3 linked regions of the Homo sapiens genome follow. The protein of the gene in region 2 purifies or fractionates together with the protein of the main gene of each other region. This does not show direct contact. Each region holds a gene or a part of one and is shown on either strand. Other genes may lie near its edges.

Evidence for each region. Proteins that work in one complex are often made in the same cells at the same time.
Region 1: the proteins of C1orf54 (region 2) and SIL1 purify together in Homo sapiens (co-immunoprecipitation; 2 studies listed by BioGRID and IntAct, with this or other methods). This does not show direct contact.
Region 3: the proteins of C1orf54 (region 2) and ARSB purify together in Homo sapiens (co-immunoprecipitation; 2 studies listed by BioGRID and IntAct, with this or other methods). This does not show direct contact.

The regions. Positions count from the first base shown.
Region 1 is NC_000005.10:138,950,369-138,957,394, forward strand, and holds part of SIL1 (nucleotide exchange factor SIL1 precursor), read right to left. Parts: exon of another isoform or gene 1,517-7,026; coding exon 1,420-1,516; intron 968-1,419; coding exon 803-967; intron 1-802.
Region 2 is NC_000001.11:150,268,769-150,275,815, forward strand, and holds the start of C1orf54 (uncharacterized protein C1orf54 isoform b precursor), read left to right. Parts: upstream 1-4,021; 5' UTR 4,022-4,049; coding exon 4,050-4,095; intron 4,096-5,318; coding exon 5,319-5,402; intron 5,403-6,972; coding exon 6,973-7,031; intron 7,032-7,047. Other genes in the region: APH1A (gamma-secretase subunit APH-1A), read right to left, coding at 1-42; uncharacterized protein LOC124904414, read right to left, coding at 288-561.
Region 3 is NC_000005.10:78,779,311-78,786,336, reverse strand, and holds part of ARSB (arylsulfatase B isoform 1 precursor), read left to right. Parts: intron 1-2,839; exon of another isoform or gene 2,840-3,020; intron 3,021-4,362; coding exon 4,363-4,485; intron 4,486-5,674; coding exon 5,675-5,940; 3' UTR 5,941-7,026. UniProt on the Homo sapiens protein: Removes sulfate groups from chondroitin-4-sulfate (C4S) and regulates its degradation. Involved in the regulation of cell adhesion, cell migration and invasion in colonic epithelium.

The sequences.
Region 1 (7,026 bases), on a different chromosome or scaffold from region 2:
GAGAGACAGTGATGGACAGAGGTGGCCACAGCCATCCCGACACTGCCTGGGAGAGAAGGCCTGGGGGAGGCGTGTGCAGAGGGAGTGAGGGGCCCAGCCTCCACCATTCGGCAGCAGTTCCAGCGGCTGCCCAGCCCTGCTCCACTAGTCGGCATGCGGCTCTTCTGGGGAGCGTGTGGCCCGAGAGAGGCAACTGAGGAAGCCCTGCCAATGCTCTCTGCAGTAGCTGAATTAAGAATCCAGGCCTGGCTGGTTTTCCTCTCTCCTCCTTAATTAAGATGCTTCTTCAAGCTTGCAAACAGGGCTGGGCACCAAGTCTCCTCCCAAGTGGCAAGCAATTGGGTCCCTGAGACTCTCAAGGGCAGCCACTCTGAGGCCCTGCCCAGAGCCAAAGCTCACAGAGGAGGCACCTCCACGTTTCTAGAATCCGAAGAGTGAGTGCCATTCGAAGGAGCTCTGGGCTGTTCTACCCCCTCAGCCTTTTGTCCCCTCGGGGCCTGGTCTCGGCTGCTCCAAGGCTTGCCTCATACTGAGCCCTCTGCCTGCACACTTGGCCGTGACCATGGCTGGCAGGGCCACCTCCCACTCCTCATCAGCCCTCAGGTTTCAGCTTAGCCACCACATCTCACATGACATACTCCCTGACGTCCCCAATCTCTTCCAACTGTCTGTCTGTCCATCCATCCAGAAGCACACACAAAGCAAACAAGTGACGTCCGCAGTCTCTTCCATCTGTCTGTCCATCCACCCAGAAGCACACACAAAGCAAACAAGAGGAGACTGGGTGGGCCTGGGCACTCACCTTCTCCGTGACCAGGTCGTAGAGCAGTGTGACCACGCGCACGGCGAGCACCTCCGTGCCCTTCTCCTGCACCAGGGTCCTCAGGACCTGCAGCCCCCCGAGCTTCAGGAACTGCCGCTGGGCATAGGGGAAGTGGCGCAGCAGGGAGCACAGTGCAAACAGGACCTGGGGGCACAGACCCAGGGGTAGGTGAGGGGCCAAGCGAGCTGGACCTGCCCTGAGGCCCAGGGAAGGCAGGCAGAGGTGCCCCAAATTAGTCCCCATTCCTCCCGGCCCCACCTCAGTTACAGCTATACCCCAGAACCCAGGACTGTGAGGCCAGGAGGGACTCAGACACCTTCAACATTACCAAGTGAGTAAATGGGAGGTAAACAGAGGCCAAGGGTGGGAGGCCAGGAGTAGGGCCCAAGGCCACAGCACAGGAGCTGCCCCCAGGCCTCTAGTCACCTCGGCACACTGCCATCTGCTTTAGTTGAGTGTAACTTCTCCCCCTGTGCCACCCAGCAGATGATGCTCAGGCCCCCATGGTAACATGCACAGCCTGGACAGGAACCCTTTCCTTTCAGGCCCCACACGTGTCCTGGAGGCTGGGCAGGAGGAAGGGCATGGAAACACACCTTCTTCTTTGCAGTGAGCGGCTGCTCCGTGGCCAGGATGACCAGCAGCTTCTGCAGGGCTCCCCCTTCGATGGCCTCCACCTGGACCTTGGGGTTGCTGGGGAAGAAGCACAGGACAGCATGACTACCCTGCCCAGCCCAGGGATCGGATGGTCAGGGAACTGAGCCCATGTCAGCCATCCCTGGGGAGAAACAAGAACAACAGAGGTTCCCACACGGGGCAAGTCAAACTCAGCTGGGGAAACAAAGACCATCTGGCACAGACCCACGTGGGAACAGCGGCCCACAGCACAGGTGACAGGGCTGAGTGCTCCCATGCCAGCCCCCACTCCCCAGCAGCCAAGGGGCTGGAGTGGGCTGGGAAGGTGAACAACCTCTACTACTGTAAAGACATTTCGATGCCGAAGGTGCTCCTTCAGCGTCCCTCCCGTAGGAAGCCTTTCTTGGCGCTTCCCAAGCCAGTGCCGGATGTTCCTTCCTCCATGACCCAAGCACATCACACACTGGGGCAATTACTAATGGGTCTGTTCCCCTCTGGGTCTGGTGCCCCAAGGCCAGGGCCCCATCCCTCTCCTCTCCTGGGTCGGCACTCAGACTGCACATAGAAAATGCTTGCGGGAGAAGGCAGGAAGAAAGTGCAAGAGACAGGAGCCTCTGAATACCCAGGCAGATCCTAAAACAGGACAACCCAATGCCTCCCACTGGGCTCCCACTCTATAACAGCAGCTACTGTCAGCTTCTCTGCCCTGTATTCTCAGCACTCAGCACAGAGCCTGCCACGTCACAGGTCCCTGGACAGTAGGGAATGAATGAACGACTGAACGAACGAACGAATGAACAACACGTGTACACAACCATGAACATATCAATAGATAAACATACTGCACTAAAGTACTCAAAACCCTGAGCTGCCTCTGGAACTCCTCTCCCCATTCTGGGCTAGAGAAATAGTGATGTGATTAAAACATTTCAGGCCCAGACCTCCCAGATGAAGGGATGAGGGGCCTGGCGGGGACCCCCATCAGGGCAGGGTGCCATGCAGGGGACAAGGCCGGGATCCCTCACAGGATGCCCTTTTGCAGGCTCCTTGCTTTTCAAGATTGCATTAGGGATCAATTAAGGAGCAAGTGTCAAGCACAGGGACCAGATAGTCAGGCCCTTGGGCAGGTCAGGGCTCCCCTCTCAGCAGCCCACATGTGAGGCCCCAGAGAAAAGAGGGGACAGGCACACAAAAGCCTGAGGCCAACAACAAGTGAAGGGGCCAAGCCAGCAGTCAGATGGTGGCTGTCACACCCATCCAACTAGCCCACAAAGGACACCGCAGTCTACCAAAGCCACCGCATGCCTCTGGCTGCCTGCCCTTGGCATGACCACAAGCTCCCAGAGACCCAAAAAGCACCTGTTCCTCCTAACTCCCAACCCTCCTGGCCAGGGGGCCCTCACGGTGTCCTTGAGAGTGAGCCAGGGTATAAGGAAACAAAGACAAATCAGAAGGAGCTGGCTCCTGGTCCTAAACCCAGAAAAGACACACTGTGCCACCGTACAGGAGAGGGCCCGACACACAGCAGGCGTGCCCCCAAAGCTGGCTGAATGGAATGAAGATAGCTCCCCACTTCTATTCTGACCAGGAACAAGCTTCAAGGTCCAGAGCAGACCGAGCACGCTGAGCCAGCTTTCTAAAGAGAAAAGCTCCTTTGTACCACGTGTCACTCTGTAGCCTCTCAGCCAGAAAGGAAGTACAGGGTGGGTGCCAGCCCGTCCCACAGCAACTCCACCCCTGTGTCTGCAGAGCAGCCTGGAGATGGGCCAGAGTCCCTGGGGAAGGGAGGCTGACAGCTCCTCTCCAGATAGGCAGGCAGGCGCTGGCGCAGGGGGGCCTGGGAGCTGAGCTGCTCCCCTGCCCCCCACGACTTGAGACAGGCAGCTGTTTCATCAAAGCATGAGCTAATTAGGGCTGTCTCTGCCATCATGTGCCTAAGGAACGCTCACCCATGACAGGAGGGTCCAGGAAGAGAAGACGACCACGCTGAGAGATTCACACAAACATCAAATGCTGCTTCCCCAAGGGGGCTGAGAGATCTGACATCGCATCAGCCTTTGGGAGCACTGCCAAGGAGTCCCATCCCTCATGGGCCCTCAGAGCAGCAGAGACAAGGCCCTCCAAAGACAGCACAAAGCTCATCACAGCACCCCATCATCGCAGCCTCAGTTAATCACCCAGGGCTGGGCAACCAAAGCCCTTCCACTTTCTGCACTGTGACCAGGGCAAAGAGAAGTCCCTTCTCTTCAGAAGGTGGGCTGATGTGGGTCGGGAGCCACCCACAGCCAAGCCAGCAGCAGCCCAGTCCCACCCACTCTGTCCCCCTCAGGCAGGCTCTTCCCACCCCATTTAGAGTAGGAGAGAAGAGAGCTCCAACATCAGATAAGTAAATCGGAGAGAAAAGAGAAAGTCTGACCTTTTGTAAATTGCTGAAATCAGGTTCATAAGGCAATAAATTCATGTTTTCACCCACAGCCAAGTCTGTGGGTACGGCAGGACCATGGGCCAAACATGGGCTGTGACAGTGCACAGCCTTGGCAGCCCTGGGCCCATGCCCTGCCTGGCCTCTTCACATGATCAGCTTAAACGAGGTACCCATGGAACCCTGGGAACTCCAGGCCTTACCCCAGGGTTCCCACAGCTTCAGGAGTTTCCTAAAAGGCCACCCTGTGAAGTGGCCTTTTAGGGCTGCCCAGGCAAGGGGTTGAAGAAACACAGCAGAGGAAGAGGGGGAAGATGAGGCTTGCGCTTCCAGCTGCTCCTCAGTCCATCCAGGCAGGGCCAGTAGAGCTGAAGGTTTCCTGAGCAATCACCCACCAAGGGTAGAATCTGCTCCTAGAAACAGACCCTCTCGCCAGTCAGCTCTGCCTTGGGCTTTAAATGCTCACAGCCTGGGGCTGGGGGAGGCAACTACCAAAACAGCTCAGAGTGAGGCCTCTGGATGTGCAAGGACCAGGGCCTGCAGGACCCTTGCTGGGAATCTCATAAGCAATGAATGGCTCATGGCCTTGGGCAAGTTTTCACCTGTGAGGCAGAGCTAGGACTACCCATGTAAAAGACAGAACAGTTAATGAATGCCAAAATGCCACACTGCTAGCCAATGCACTGTGGCCAAAAGATAATTACAGTAGGCTCACTACACAAAGAGGCCAGACCACATCTTTGAGAGCACAGCTTTATTTGGCCTGGATGCCTCGAGCACATATCATGTATGGCAGCCCCATCCTCCTCCAGCCTATGGACTCTGGACCAGAGCTGCGGCCCACCCCTGGAGGGACCAGTCCTGCTGGCTGGAAGGTAGGTGTCCTGACAGTTGGGGATCTGAGTTAAGGGGGCGGGGGCCTGGCACGCCTCAAAGTGACATCAGTGGCGCTGGTGTGCTCAAAGTCAACAGAAGGATATTAAGGACGTAGCTCATCTCCGATGCGATAAATGAGAATAAACCTTGTTCAGGGCTAAGCCGGCTGGACTAAATAAATACCATTAGCACTTGGATTACTGGGATGTTCACAATCAGCAGGCAAGTCAGCTGTCTGTGTGCAGAGGGACGACAGCAGCTGCTACTCTGTAAATCTTGCAGGGAGATGGGCTGGGGGTGGGGCAGGCTGCAAAAATGGAAGTGATTGCATTTGCAAAAACCAAAGAGTTTGGGTCAGGGTGACAGCAATTTGGGCAATCAGCCAAGAGTCAGAGGTCATATTTTAGCTAACTGAAGCTAAGCAAGTGTCTGGGTGGAAGGGGACTGAAGGAGCTGACCACAGGGAAGGCAGCCCAGCTCGGCCAGGGGGCCCAGGAGATTGCTGCCCAGCACACACCCCGGGGCTGACTTCACCCTTGGGCTCAGGGCTGGCTACATAATTTTCAGGCCCAAGTGCAACATGAAAACGTAGGGCCTTTTGTTCAAGAATTATCAGAAATTTCAAGACAGTGAGAACAGAGCATGAAGCCAAGCACGGGCCCTTTTGAGTGTGGGGTCCTGTGCCGCTGCACGGGTGGCAGGGCCAACAAGGTATGTGCACGGAAATCCTGCTCCAGGGTCAACCAACCGGAACAACAAGGGCTGAAAAGTAAGCTTGAATTTCTGAAAAGGAAAACAACTGGAAAAGGCAGAGCTCTAGGATGGGAATAAGGATGAGGGTGACTAGTTAGATGGGGGCCAAGGAAATGCTAAGGTGTAACTGAAGAGAGCTTCTGTGATTGAGACTGCCAGGCCAGACCAGGACACCAGAGGCACAGCAGAGGGATGTGCTCACTCACGCGTCCTCGTGACATTTCTAAGTGCAACAAATACTCTTTTCATTCCCTTAGAACAGGAAAAAACTATTATTTTTCTTCTGAAATGCCTCTGAGATGATGCCATGCACTGAGGGCAGAGGGCACATCTCAGGGGTATATGGGGCCAGGCTCAATCATTCACCTGATGAAGTGCAGCTCACCTTCTTGCCCAGAAAGAAAGATTTCCTCTGGTGGCCCCACCTTGCTTATGCCTTAATGTGTGGCCTCCATCATCTGGGAAAGCAAGAATTTGCAGGATGTGTAATCCTGAAATAGATGGGTTCAAGAGACATCTATATTTGCCTGCCATCCAGGGATGAGTGGGGCTAGGTAATCAATCAGTTAAGATACAAACAATTGGCTGGGCGCAGTGGCTCACGCCTGTAATCCCAGCACTTTGGGAGGCTGAGGCGGGCAGATCACTTGAAATCAGGAGTCCAAGACTAGTCTGGCCAACATGGTGAAACCCCGTCTCTACTAAAAATACAAGAGTTAGCTGGTGTGGTGTCAGGCACCTGTAATCTCAGCTACTCGGGAGGCTAAGGCAGGAGAATCGCTTGAACCCAGGAGGTAGAGGTTTCAGTGAGCTGAGATCACGCCACTGCACTCCAGCCTGGGCAACAGAGCAAGACTCTATCTTAAAAAAAAAAAAAAGATACAATTACCGAATTGAATAAAAATGGAATAGGTTTAACAACAACAACAACAAAAAACAAAAAACAAAACAAAAAAAACACTGTACAAATCTTCCACTACAAAGTCAAGCTTCCAGGAATAACAAAACACATGAGCTGCACATCACTTTGTGTTGGGACCTGTATGGCCTCAGGAGTTCCATCTGGACACTGGGGAAAGGCAGGGCTATCATCTGACCCCTTCATGTACAGCCCCCAACTGGAAGCCACCCACGTAAGCAACTATGAGACACCCACTCCTCACCACAGTAACAGCAACTCACAAGAGGGTCTCTAGACCCTACTGACAGACACACACACAATACACACACACAGACACAATCATCTGCCCACCTCTGAGGAGATAAAGGGAACCTCAGAGGGAGGGGCAGCAAATCACCTTCCTGAGGGTCATCTGGTAGCTCTCCAACACAGCCCTGTGTCACAATCACCTGGGCAGTTTATTTCCTGAAACCATTTCAGACTAGTGCTTTAAAAAATTACAGAAAATAGGCCAGGTGTGGTGGCTCATGCCTGTAATCCCAGCACTTTGACAGGCTAAGGTGGGAGGACTGCTTGAGTCCAGGAGTTTGAAACTAGCCTGGACAAGGTGGTAAA
Region 2 (7,047 bases):
GAACGCGACGAAAGTGCAGCCGAAAAACACCGCAGCCCCCATGGCTGGTCAGGTGGGAAGGGGGGTGGGGGCCTGACCAGGACAGGCAAATGGGAGGGGCGCGCCAGCTGGGGAGTCCGCGTGGGGTGGCAACGCGACCCCACGAGGGGCGCGGTGCAATGTCACCCCCAGACCCCGGGGAAGGGGAAGGGGGGGAACCGAAACCCCAAATGAAGGTCCGCGCCACTTCCTCTACGGAAGCCGAAGAGGGGACAAATCCCGGCCGCAGCCCCACGGCCACCTCCCATCTAATCCCCACCCCCGGAAGGCCAATGGAGAATCAGCGCGGGCGGAGCTGCTCGACCTGCTGGGAGTTGTAGTCGCCTTCCGAGGCCTTGACTTCGTCCTGGGAGTGGCTCGAGCCGGTTAATGGGGGTGGGCCGGGAATGGACCAGTCGAGACACCAATTCCAGGGTTCGGTTGCGCTTCCGTCGCTGTTTCCTTTCGTCACTTTGTGGGGAAAAGTGGTAGCAATCATACCTCTTCTTGAAGGGCTGCAGAGGGGGTAGATCCTGTTTGAATCTAAGGGACAAATACAAAGAGAGCACAGGATGGGGCGCAGGGAGATAGGGACGGGTATTGTTCTTACTTGAATGAGAGGAAATGGGCTAGAGCTGCTGCCTAAGAGATGAAGATTACATTAAAAAGTAGGAGCTCTTCGGACAGACTAGTATAATAAACATGGAATACAGTATATCGCTAATGAAGCCTTCATCTGTAATGACAAGAGAATCGGAGAGAAGCAAAAGGAGCCTGGAGAGAAATGTTAGGAAGGCATTTTGAAAGAGTCCGGGAGTTTAAAAGCAATTAGAGCGATGGGGTTGAAGGAAAACGACACCCCCACCCCACCCCCGCCATAAATTCCTTTTATGTCATACTTCCTCTATTTATTTTCTGAAAAATGAACCTCAGTGGTGCGTTTTCCTGAGGCTGAGAGGGGTTGTATATTAGAGTGAATGAAAGTTAAAGTAGGCTGAGCGCGGTGGCTCACCCCTGTAATCCCAGCACTTTGGGAGGCCAGGAGTTTGAGACCAGCCTGGCCAACATGGCGAAACCCCATCTCTACTAAAAATACAAAAATTAGCCAGATGTGGTGGCGCACGCCTGTAATCCCAGCTACCTGGGAGGCTGAGGGGCAAATATAGCTTGAACCCAAGAGGCAGAGGTGGCAGTGAGCTGAGATTGCGCTACTGCACTACAGCCTGGGCAACGGAGTGAGGTTCTGTCTCAAAAAAGAAAAAGAAAGTTAAGTAGGAGAGGAGGGTATTGTAATCTCATTTGGATGGGGAGAGGTTAGTCCTTAGGGAAGATGTTAGGCAAAGGAATCTGAGGATGGAAAAGAGGAAAGAAATCTGGAATATTGTTTTTGAAAGCATAATCAAAGTACCAAAAAAAACCCCACAGAAATTGTTTAAAGATAACCAAACTTCCTTTCCTTCCTGGAAGTGATTTATTATTTAATCCATATGTGCACACTCACATACATGTTTTACATGTCTTCCAGGATATTCTGGAAAGGAGCTGAGGAATAGATTGTATAGATTTACACGGAGGCTGGTCACAGTGGCTCATGCCTGTAATCCCAGCACTTTCGGAGGCCAAGGCGGCTGGATCACTTGAGGTCAGGAGTTTGAGACTAGCCTGGCCAGTGTGGTAAAACCCCATCTCTACTAAAAATACAAAAAATTAGCCAGGCATGGTGGTGCGCACCTGTAGTCCCAGCTACTCAGGAGGCTGAGCCACGAGAATAGCTTGAATCTGAGAGGTGGAGGTTACAGTGAGCTGAGATCCCACCACTGCACTCCAACCTGGGCGACAGAGCAAGACTCTGTCTCTGAAAAAAAAGAAAGAAAATATTTACATGGAAAGTCACCAGGCAAATTATTCCCTAATGAGACTAAGAGGGTAGCTGGGCGCAGTGGCTCACGCCTGTAATCCCAGCACTTTGGGAGGTCGAGGCAGGCAGATCACGAGGTCAGGAGATCGAGACCATCCTGGCTAACACGATGAAACCCCGTTTCTACTAAAAATACAAAAAATTAGCCAGGCGTGGTGGCGGGCGCCTGTAGTCCCAGCTACTCAGGAGGCTGAGGCAGGAGAATGGCGTGAACCCAGGAGGCGGAGCTTGCAGTGAGCCGAGATCGTGCCACTGCACTCCAGCCTGGGCAACAGAGTGAGACTCCGTCTCAAAAAAAAAAAAAAAAAAATTAAGAGGGTAGCGTTATCATGACCTGTGTTCAAGACTCCAGTATGTCCTGCTTCTGAGCCCAGCAGGCAGAGTAAGGTGGATAGGAATGAGACAATTCTCATGTCTTTTTTTTTTGAGATGGAGTCTCACTCTGTTGCCTAGACTGGAGTACAGTGGTGCTATCTCGGCTCACTGCAACCTCTGCCTCCCAGGTTCAAGTGATTCTCCTGCTTCAGCCTCCCTAGTAGCTGGGATTACTGGCGCCTGCCACCAAGCCCAGCTAATTTTTGTATTTTTAGTAGAGACAAGGTTTCACCATGTTGGCCAGGCTGATCTCCTGACCTCAGGTGATCTGTCCGCCTAAGCCTCCCAAAGTACTGGGATTACAGGCGTGAGCCACTGTGGCCAGCTTCATCTCTCCATTGAGCTGTTACCACAGCATCTTCTGACCATTGACAGGAGGCTGTAAACCTATCTTGTTCATGGGTGTTTCCACAGACACTTGCATAGTGCCTGACTCATAGTAGATGTTGAGCAGATACTTATTAACTTCCCTTAAGAACAAAGCAAAACTGTCTTTTCTTATTCCCTTGCCTATAAGCTCTCAATTGCCTATCACACTAGGCCTAGCACACTGTGCCTAGCACGTATGTTGCTAAGGGTTTCTGAATTGAATGAACATGGGAAACATAAAAGCAGAGGAAAGGATAAAAACTCTACACCTGTAGGACGGAATGAAGGGAACATACCAAGTGACTGAATGTGGGAGGGAAGGTGTGGCACCTGTAGCAGGGAAAGAGACTATCTGCTTTCTCCCTTCTTCCAACCTGCATCCTGGAAGTTGAGAAAGAGATGAGGTGAGGCCGGGCACGGTGGCTCATGCCTGTAATCCCAGTACTTTGGGAGGCCAAGACAGGTGGATCATCTGAGGTCAGGAGTTCGAGACCAGCCTGGGCCAACATGGTGAAACCCCGTCTCTACTAAAAATACAAAACTTAGCTGGGCATGGTGGCACGCGCCTGTAGTCCCAGCTACCAGGGAGGCTGAGGCAGGAGAATCACTGGAACCCGGGAGGCAGAGGTTGCAGTGAGCCGAGATCGCGCCACTGCACTCCAACCTGGGTGACAAAGCAAGATTCTGTCTCAAAAAAAAAACAAAGAGGTGAGGTGAGGTCAGTGTTACCAGAAAGGAAATAACTGACCATGGCTGAGAGACTTTTAGCTGAAGCCATGCAGCAGGTGCTTTAAGTCAGACAATGATGGGTAAATATTGTTCCTATTCTCTATAGCTCCAGACAGACAGAAGAAAGGGATTCTTTTCAGTCTAGAAAAATGCTCACCCCTTCCTCAGAACATTTCCACTGTGACGAAAAGAGACTGATGAAGCCTCAGAGAGAAAGGCAACTCTGGGTGGTGATGGTAAGTCAGAGACAGTGAGAGGGAGGGTGAACTTTTTATGAGGCCTTGGAGGAAGGAAGGAAAGCCGGGAGAGGGGAAACTTCTTGGTAGGCTTATTTTTTATTTTTATTTTGGTAGTGACAGTGGGAGTCTTGAATGGATCTAATCTAGGGCAGGGGGAGCTTAAGAAACATGTTTGCATCAAAACCCCCTTTTGCCTCTCAATCTGGGCAGCTCTGGCTGGGGACCGGCAGTAACCGGAGATCTAGTCAGTCAGCCAGTAGGCGGGGAGTTCTGCCCCCTGGGAGGAGAAGAGTTGCTGCAGCTCCTTCCCTGCTTTGGAGGAGGAGGGGAGGCGGGGTAAGTTTGGTGGGAAACTCTGTAATTTCCTTTTTTACTTTCACAGCAATAGTGCAGAATCCAGAATGGATGTCCTCTTTGTAGCCATCTTTGCTGTGCCACTTATCCTGGGTAAGTCCACTCCTCTCTCTGAGCTTTTGTGCCAGGTCTTCTACCATAAATGGGGTGGGAGAAAAAAAATGAGGAGTGGGTGAGAGGTACATTTCAGTGGGGAGCGATAGAGTTTTCTCATCGTGCTGGGGTCCGGTGTTGAGGGCAGAATGGAGATCTGGAAGGCAGAGCCAGGAAAGGGGGAAAAAAGCAGAGTCCTGTCAAACAAGGAGGATGGAGCTCCAGACACAAGGAGGCCCTAGCAACACTGAGCTCAGTTCTCCATCACCACGGAAGTTGAACAAGATGACAGGGGCTAAAGTAAGGGTGAAGGAGGGATTATTGGAAGGTGTCACAGTCTGAAACTAGTAGTTAGGGTATCTCCTTTCCCAGAGAATTGGAGAAAAAAACCTGCTATTAGTAAAGACACAGAAGTGGGGTGACCTTTAGGGTAGTGGAAAACTGGCTGTCTTCAGGGACAGGGTCCCAAGAGTAGCTTGGCTCCTTCCCTCCTTTGTTCCCCAGTCTACCAGGTGTGTCTCATTGTTTCCTTTTCCTCTAGATTCTTGTGTCATTAGCTTGGAGTTGAAGGGAAAGCATTCAAGGAGCTCAGGGAAGTGTTTAGCAGGAGGCCTGGAGTTCTTGATCCAGTCATATCAAAGCCACATATTTTTAGTTCTGAAAGGGAAGAAAAACTAACAGAGATGGGTCATTTTAGTCCAGCTGACTCATTTTAAGAAAGCGGATGTTAAGTGGATTGTTCAGGGTTATTCTGTTAGCAGTGAAGGTGGAACTAAAGCTCAAATCCAAAGCCTAAGGGTGTATGTTAGTTATTTGTAAGAGATACTGATAAGAAAAGATGTCTCACAAATACAGTAAGATCTGGAGCATACTAAATAGAAGACTTGGCGTTTTTAATTCCTGGTCTCTACTTTTCCTACCTTTTTTAGGTCTGGTTCTCCCTTTGGGTTTATAGTATGTGAAGGGGACTGTTTTCTGTTTTAGGAGTTCCTGGATTGAAAGGGCACGGAGTAACAGGCCTCATTACAGATATGGATCCCAGAAGACTGAGAGGGGTGTAGAGGTGCACAGGCAAGAAAGGAGTATGACTATTGGAGGAGAGAGAGAGAGAGAGAAAAGAAAGAAAGAGCAAGAAAGCTGGGAGCGCTGAGGTCATCTCCAGGTGTCCTTTTGTTAGTAAGGTGTTCCAGATGTCCCTTGACCTCTAGTCCTTGTCCCCATAGGACAAGAATATGAGGATGAAGAAAGACTGGGAGAGGATGAATATTATCAGGTGGTCTATTATTATACAGTCACCCCCAGTTATGGTGAGTACATGAAAGGCTCTTGCCCTTAGCCAACTGGAGAGAGGCTTCAGGATATTTAGTTCTGAGACTTTGCTCTTCACTTTGAAGCAGAGCAATGGGGTCAGAGAAAAATCTGGCTATGAACAAAACCTATCAAGACTCATGATGGGGCCGGGCGTGGTGGCTCACACCTGTAATCCCAGCACTTTGGGAGGCTGAGGCGGGCGGATCACGAGGTCAGGAGATCGAGACCATCCTGGCTAACACAGTGAAACCCTGTCTCTACTAAAAATACAAAAAATTAGCCGGGTGTGGTGGCGGGTGCCTGCAGTCCCAGCTACTTGGGAGGCTGAGGCAGGAGAATGGCATGAACCCGGGAGGCAGAGGTTGCAGTGAGCTGAGATCGTGCCACTGCACTCCAGCCTGGGTGACAGAGCAAGACTCCATCTCAAAAAAAAAAAATGAAAAAAGATTTATGATGGGCTGGGCGCAGTGACTCATGCCTGTAATCCCAGCACTTTGGGAGGCTGAGGTGGGTGGATCACCTGCGGTCAGGAGTTTGAGACCAGCCTGGCCAACATGGTGAAACCCTGTCTCTACTAAAAATACAAAAATTAGCTGGGCATGGTGGCACCTGCCTGTAGTCCCAGTTATTCAGGAGGCTGAGGCAGGAGAATCGCTTGAACCTGGGAGGCAGAGGTTGTGGTGAACTGAGATCACACCACTGCACTCCAGCCTGGGCGACAGAATGAGACTACGTCACAAAAAAAAAAAAAGACTCATGATGATGTTATTTTTCCAGATAGTGATTTTTAGATGGGAGGATTGCTTGAGCCCAGGAGTTCAAGACCACCCTGGACATCATAGCAAGACCTTGTCTCTATAGAAAAAAAAATTTTTTTTTTTTGAGACCAAATCTCATGCTGTCACCCAGGCTAGAGTGCAGTGGCACAATCTCAGCTCACTGCAACCTCTGCCTCTCGGCTTCCAGCTATTCTCTTGCCTCAGCCTCCTAGGTAGCTGGGACTACAGGCGTGTGCTACCATGCCCGGCTAATTTTGTATCTTTAGTAGAGACAAGGTGTCACCATGTTGGCCACGCTGGTCTTGAACTCCTGATCTCGTGATCTGCCCACCTCAGCCTCCCAAAGTGCTGGGATTACAGGCTTGAGCCATCGTGCCCGGCCAAATTTTTTTTTTTTTAATTAGCTGGGCATGGTGGCACATGGCTGTAGTCCCAGCTACTCAGGAGGCTGAGGCAGGAGGATCACTTGAGCTCAGGAGCTGGAGGTGGCAGTGAGCTATGATTGAACCAACTGTACTCCAGCCTGTTAACACAGTGAGACCCTGACTCTAAAAAAAGAAGAACTTGAAAATTTTTCAAATTTGTAAATTATTTTAGATACCTACATTGAAAATATAAATGCATACACATTCACAGTCATTTTTAACATTAGTTAAATAAAATTGGATTATACCAATAAATGTTACAACTTAAGTTAAACTATTCTGAGTAATTTCTTCCCTTTTCATTTCCAGATCTAGAGTTACATTTTTCTTTAATTATTACTGATTTTCTTTCTCCTCTGCAGATGACTTTAGTGCAGATTTCACCATTGATTACTCCATATTTGAGTCAGAGGACAGGCTGGTGAGTGAACTCTACA
Region 3 (7,026 bases), on a different chromosome or scaffold from region 2:
AAGAATGAAGTACTGATACGTGCTACAAAATGAATGAACCTTGAGAACATTATGCCAAGTGAAAGAAGCCAGACACGAAAGGCCACATATTGTCTGATCCTATTTATATAAAATGTCCAGAATAGGTAAATCCAGAGCACAAAGTGGGTTAAGGGTTGCCTAGGGCTGGAGGGTGTGGGAGTAAATGGGGATTAACTGCCAATGGTGCAGGGTTTCTTTCTGGGGTGATAAAAATGTTCTAAAATATGTTACAGTGATGGTTATACAACTTTGTGAATATATCATACTAAAAACCATAGAATTTTACACTAAAAATGGGTGAATTTGATCATATGTGAACTATATGATATACTCTTTAAAAAATATATTTAAATTCCTCTTATGTCTCCCTATTGATTAGAAGGAAAAGTTGCCACCTCTCTGACCCTTCTTCTGCAGCCACATCTCCCTCTGACCATAATCAAGAAGTACTCCTTGCATTTATGAACTCATGTCATTAGATCGGGCCCATCCAGATAAATCTGAGATAATCCTCACATCTTACAGGTCTTACCTATAATCATACCTGCAGAGTCCCTTATGGCATGGAAGGTGATGTATTCATAGGTTCTGGGAGATTAGGATGTTGACATTTTGAGGAACCATTATCCTGCCTATCATACCCTGTTTTATACTTCTTTCTATTGCATAAGAGTCTCACACATGTTGACAGATGGATGGAAAAAATATATTATGCAGGTACTAACAGCAGCAACAATGACAGCTAAAAACTGAGCTATCTATACATCAGATAAAGTAGATTTAAAGGAGGAAAGCACTATTAGAATTAAAGAGGGAGTTTTCAAAATAATTATCCAGTCATAGAAGAGATTTTTAACATACCTCTCTCAGTAACTGATAGAACAAGCAAACAAACAAAAATGTCCATAAAGATATAAAAGATTTGAACACCATAGTTAACAAACTTGACCTAAATGATATACAGAGCATTGAGCCCAACAACTTCAGACTACATGTTTTTTACATTGGTGCTTGGATAATTCATAGTCCGTATTAGAAATGAAAATGTTGAATATCTGTTATTCAAAAGGTTATAAAAAAAATAACAAATTAAGCCCAAAGAAAATAAAAGGAGGGAAATAATAAAGATAAAAGAAGTTAATGAAATAGAAAACAAACATACTACAGATAGGATCTACAAGGCCAAAAGTTTGTTGTTTGAAAAGACCAATAAAATCAGGCCAGGTGCGGTGACTCACGCCTGTAATCCCAGCACTTTGGGAGGCCAAGGCGGGCGGATCATGAGGTCAGGAGTTCCAGACCAGCCTGGCCAACATGGTGAAACTCTGTCTCTACTAAAAATACAAAAAATTAGCTGGGCATGGTGGCATGCACCTGTAATCCCAGCTACTCAGGAGGCTGAGGCAGGAGAATTGCTTGAACTCCAGAGGCAGAGGTTGCAGTGAGCCAAGATCGCACCACTGCACTCCAGCCTGGGTGACAGAGCAAGACTCCATCTAAAAAAAAAAAAAAAAAAAGACTAATAAAATCAATTAAACACTAGCAAAACGTATCTTGGGAAAAAATGAAAAGCATGAATTGCCAATATCAGGAATAAACAGGCAATATTACTACAGATGCTACAAACATTTAAAAGATAATACAAAACAAAAGTTCACATGTACTACACAAATTCCTAATAAAATACAAGTTATCAAAACTGACAAAGGGAGAAATAGAAGATCTAAATGGTCCTATACCTGCTCAGGAAATTAAATCAATAATTTCAAACCTTCCCACAAAGAAAACTCTAGGCCTAGATGGCTTTACCAACAAACTCTTTTTTGTGGATGAATAGTATTCCATTGTGTCTATATATCACATTTTCTTTATCCATTCATCTATTGATGGACACTTAGGTTGATTCCATATCTTGACTATTATAAATAGTGTTGCAATAAACATGGAGGTGCAGGTAACCCTTTAGTATACCGATTTCCTTTCGTTTGGATAAATACCTAGTGGTGGGATTACTGCACTGTATGGTAGTTCTATTTTTAATTTTTTGAGGAACCTCCATACTGTCTTCCATAATACCTTTACTAATTTACACTCCCACCAACAGTACACACATACATTTTTAAAGCATAAAACAGTGCTATATATTATCCCTTGGCACATATGTATTCTGCATTTTAAAATGGCTGAAGGATGCACTGAAGTCACAATAGCAGCAGCCTCTAGAGGAGTAAATGAAAGGACAGGGTTTGAGGATAAGAACAAAGGAGACTTCAACTTCATTTTTATTGTCCAGTTTCTTTTATTTTTTTTAAAAAAAGGCAAACATGGTAAAATGTTAACATCTGTTCATTTTGGGTGATGGCTCATAGGGTGTTAGTCATATTATTCTTTGTAATTTTCCCTTTGTTTAATTTCTCAAAATGAAAACAATAAAGTCAAGATAATAGTATCTTTCATAGTTTAGTCTTAGGCTTATTTATTGTTTAGGTATTTTATGTTCCTGTTTGTCTTAAGAAAAAAATGTGTATAAATATAAGTATAGATGAGATAGTTAAATTTCCTTTTTTTGTTTGTGTTCACAAAACATGCTTGTTTTATTTAACATTCTTTGGTATCAAAATGTGGCCTTCATACAAACTTGTGAGGAGTAAACCATGAGGGTTCACAGTTTTACCACAGTCTGTATGTTAGCAACCATTTCCTGTGATAGACATGCTCATGCACCTCAAGTACTAGAAGTATCCATTTGTATTGGAGCCAAAATATCCGCAAGCAGAGAAACAAGAAGTCAAAAATATTTTCCTCTTTGGTGCTAAAGATTTGCTGCTGTGTGATTGTTGAGACTGAAGTTCTGAAAGCACCAGTGTTTGCCGGATCTGTCTCCAGCTTGTCTCTACAAGGTCATTTCCAAAAGACTGTCAAAAGAATGGCATGTCCCGCCTTTTCCACCACCGACACACCCTGCATGAAAACCCCAGGAGCACAGAAGTCCTGCTTGGGTGAGGATAAGGGCTCTCTCAAAGTCTATTATCGAAGGAAGGCAGACAGATGGGTTAACCACTCCAATGGAGTCTATACTTTTACAGACATATCACATATTATGACAATTAATTATTAGGCTGGTGGTTCAGCAACCTTTCGAAGTGATCCCAAGATGATTGCTGTGACCATATTTGAAAAGCTAACAGATAAATGTGGGCTTAAAACAGACTATATGTTATTCAGCTAGGCCTCAACCATAGGCATAAGTAGGAGTGAGGTGAGGGCCCTTGTGGACCCACCAGGGTCTTCCACAAGAGTAGAACTCTTGCCTTGTTCACTCCTTTCATAATCAGGCAAAGGAAGGAGTTATTCAAAAGGAGGAACTGAGCATGTTCAACCGAGACCCTTTTTGCTGTCCAATTTCCAGCCAGCCTGTCACCTGGATATATGTAAGCACTCTGGTCTGCTCTTGGCTGTGTGCTCTAAGGGAGCCCACTGGGTGTTCAGCAAGATCAATGGTGAGGATTAAATCTTTCTAAGTCAAGGGTCAGTTACAAACAAGATCTCTCTGCTACAGATCTGAAGCTGTATTCTCTCCAGTCAATTTTGTCAGTAACAAAAGCAGTATTTTTTGTTCCATCTGTCTATCTTCTACCTCTTAATTGGTTTCAAACTTAAGAGGTGGTAGAGATTAGTAATTGCTCCCCACAAAAGCAAAAAACCAACCTGATGATCAATTAAGATCTCAAAAATGATAAATTAATATAATCCATGATACCAGCCAAAAATTTGTATACCAAATTTGTTCTTACCCCCATAGTTATCCTGTCTGAATAGTTAACTGAGCACTGCTCACTTTTAGATTCCTTAAGAGTTGTTAAAAAATAAGTCTTTGTACTCTATCATGGCATGCATGAACTCTCATAGCTTGAAATGACTGCATGAAAATGTACATTTTATAATTTCTTATACTATTTACATAGGTATAAGTATACACAGAAAGTGTGTTTAAATGTTTAACAGCCAAAAACAAAAACCAAAAAAAAGTCACTCTGCTGTAACAGAACACTGTTCTGCATATGGCTAGCTGTACATTGGCAGAACATAGCGATTTTAAGGATGAATTAGTGTTGTAATCTCTTTGGGATTTCCTTTATATTTGCGGTGGTTTATGACTGACATTTCATGTAACTATAGCTTTCTGTTTGGATTTAATAAAAGATTCATTTCTGTGGCAAGATACACATTTGCACTCCAGTGTTGAATAAAAGCTACTGTTCTGCAAGGGTATAAAATGCTGATTTATAACAACACGTTCCAATAACAGTGATCTAATTCTTTCAAACTATTTCTTCCCAGGTCCCAGGAACAGCATGGCTCCAGCAAAGGATGACTCTTCTCTTCCAGAATATTCAGCCTTTAACACATCTGTCCATGCTGCAATTAGACATGGAAATTGGAAACTCCTCACGGGCTACCCAGGTAGAGTCCTTAGCTTAGCAAACTTCCCTTCCCGTGGTAGACAAAGCAGGGCTGTGTCCTCAGGGCAGTATCTCCAGTCTATCTGCCCTCCTGGGATTTGATTCCCACGGCCATTTCTCTGGAAAGAGAGGACATTATCACTCTTGTTCTAACCGTTTCCCACCTCTTCCTCTGTGGCTCCTCCTCAAGGCCCCTAAGCCCTACCACTTACCTCACTTTGCTCAGATACCTGAAATCTTAATTTGTCTTTCTAATCTTTCATGATCCCTCCTGATATATGTCCTAGAAAGACAACTATTTATTCAGGGTTTTCTTTTCCCAATTCTAAGACTCCGCCTGTTCCCAATTACACAGCTTCCATCATTGTCATGGTGCAAGTAAGCTTTCCCAGTGGATCATCAAGGAGAAGCTTACCGAAGTAACAAATGCCTTTTGCAAAACATATCTCTGGGGCTGCTGAATGAGGAGATAGGAAGAAATGGTTTAACCTACTCGTCCTAACCAAAAAAAAAAAAAAAAAAAAAAAAAGAGAGAGAGAGAGAAAGACAGAGAGAATTAACTGTAGCAGGGGTGAAAGGAAGAAATGTCACTCTTATGCTTCATGGAAAATACGGATTTTAAATATATGTGGCTATCAAGCACAGCACATTTAGCTAACAAAGAGAGTCTCTGAGAGCTACACCCTCAACCAGTGGTATAGCTGGGGAAGGAGGTTGCTCCTCTGATTATATTCTCTAAGAGTGATATCTTTTCAATACTTTTAAAATATGTGGGATGATGGTTAAGGCTGTGATGTAATTAATCAATGTTTACAATGAGAACATTTTTGGCGTTTGCAATATGACAAGTCTTTTTTGACTGGGATTGTCCCATGTATTGCAAGACTTTAGCATCACTAGCTCATGCCCACTAAATGCCAGGAGCACCCCTATGCCCTAGTCCTTGTGACAAGGACATACACACATGCACACACGTTTCTGGGTGTCCTTGCTTGTGAAGCAGTGAGACATGTCTAGTTAAAGCACCAGAAGTCAAGTCTGAGAAGCATCTAGAGACAGCATCTAGGGCCGCATCTTTTTATGTTTCCACACCCACAACCCAGTGCAGCCTTGGCCTCAGACTCCTTCCCTGAAATTAGAACCTGCCTCTGTGCTTCTCCCTCAGTAAACTGTTTTGTTTTCTTTGCTAGGCTGTGGTTACTGGTTCCCTCCACCGTCTCAATACAATGTTTCTGAGATACCCTCATCAGACCCACCAACCAAGACCCTCTGGCTCTTTGATATTGATCGGGACCCTGAAGAAAGACATGACCTGTCCAGAGAATATCCTCACATCGTCACAAAGCTCCTGTCCCGCCTACAGTTCTACCATAAACACTCAGTCCCCGTGTACTTCCCTGCACAGGACCCCCGCTGTGATCCCAAGGCCACTGGGGTGTGGGGCCCTTGGATGTAGGATTTCAGGGAGGCTAGAAAACCTTTCAATTGGAAGTTGGACCTCAGGCCTTTTCTCACGACTCTTGTCTCATTTGTTATCCCAACCTGGGTTCACTTGGCCCTTCTCTTGCTCTTAAACCACACCGAGGTGTCTAATTTCAACCCCTAATGCATTTAAGAAGCTGATAAAATCTGCAACACTCCTGCTGTTGGCTGGAGCATGTGTCTAGAGGTGGGGGTGGCTGGGTTTATCCCCCTTTCCTAAGCCTTGGGACAGCTGGGAACTTAACTTGAAATAGGAAGTTCTCACTGAATCCTGGAGGCTGGAACAGCTGGCTCTTTTAGACTCACAAGTCAGACGTTCGATTCCCCTCTGCCAATAGCCAGTTTTATTGGAGTGAATCACATTTCTTACGCAAATGAAGGGAGCAGACAGTGATTAATGGTTCTGTTGGCCAAGGCTTCTCCCTGTCGGTGAAGGATCATGTTCAGGCACTCCAAGTGAACCACCCCTCTTGGTTCACCCCTTACTCACTTATCTCATCACAGAGCATAAGGCCCATTTTGTTGTTCAGGTCAACAGCAAAATGCCTGCACCATGACTGTGGCTTTTAAAATAAAGAAATGTGTTTTTATCGTAATTTATTTCCCCCCAGCCATTGCTCACTCTGTCTAGACTTCCTGCCACTTCCAATTCTTCTGTGGCTTTTCCTGCCTTTCCTTTTGACCTCAGTAGTCCTATCCCTGGGAAGGCCACTTTGCTTCTCTACCTGAGCACCCCTGATTTCTGGAACGCTGCTGAGCCCTGCCTTACTTTTGCCCCTAGGGCTGAAGCTAGAGGCCTCCCCGTAATAGGCGGTGGAGTTGCTCTGTGAGGATGTTCATGGTAGACACTAAGAGGGCTGGGTGGGAGATGCTTGGCTCTGTGGCATCTGTTCAGCGAGGCTTTTCCTATATTGCATGGAGTTAGTCATTGTGATTGTAGCTTTATTTCATAATATATTAAGACTTGCACTGCTATTTACTAGCAGTGAGAAGAAACCTCAGGAAAGGATATGAAAAAGCAAGTGGCCAGTGTCTGGGATACTGGGCCTTGGTAAAGCAG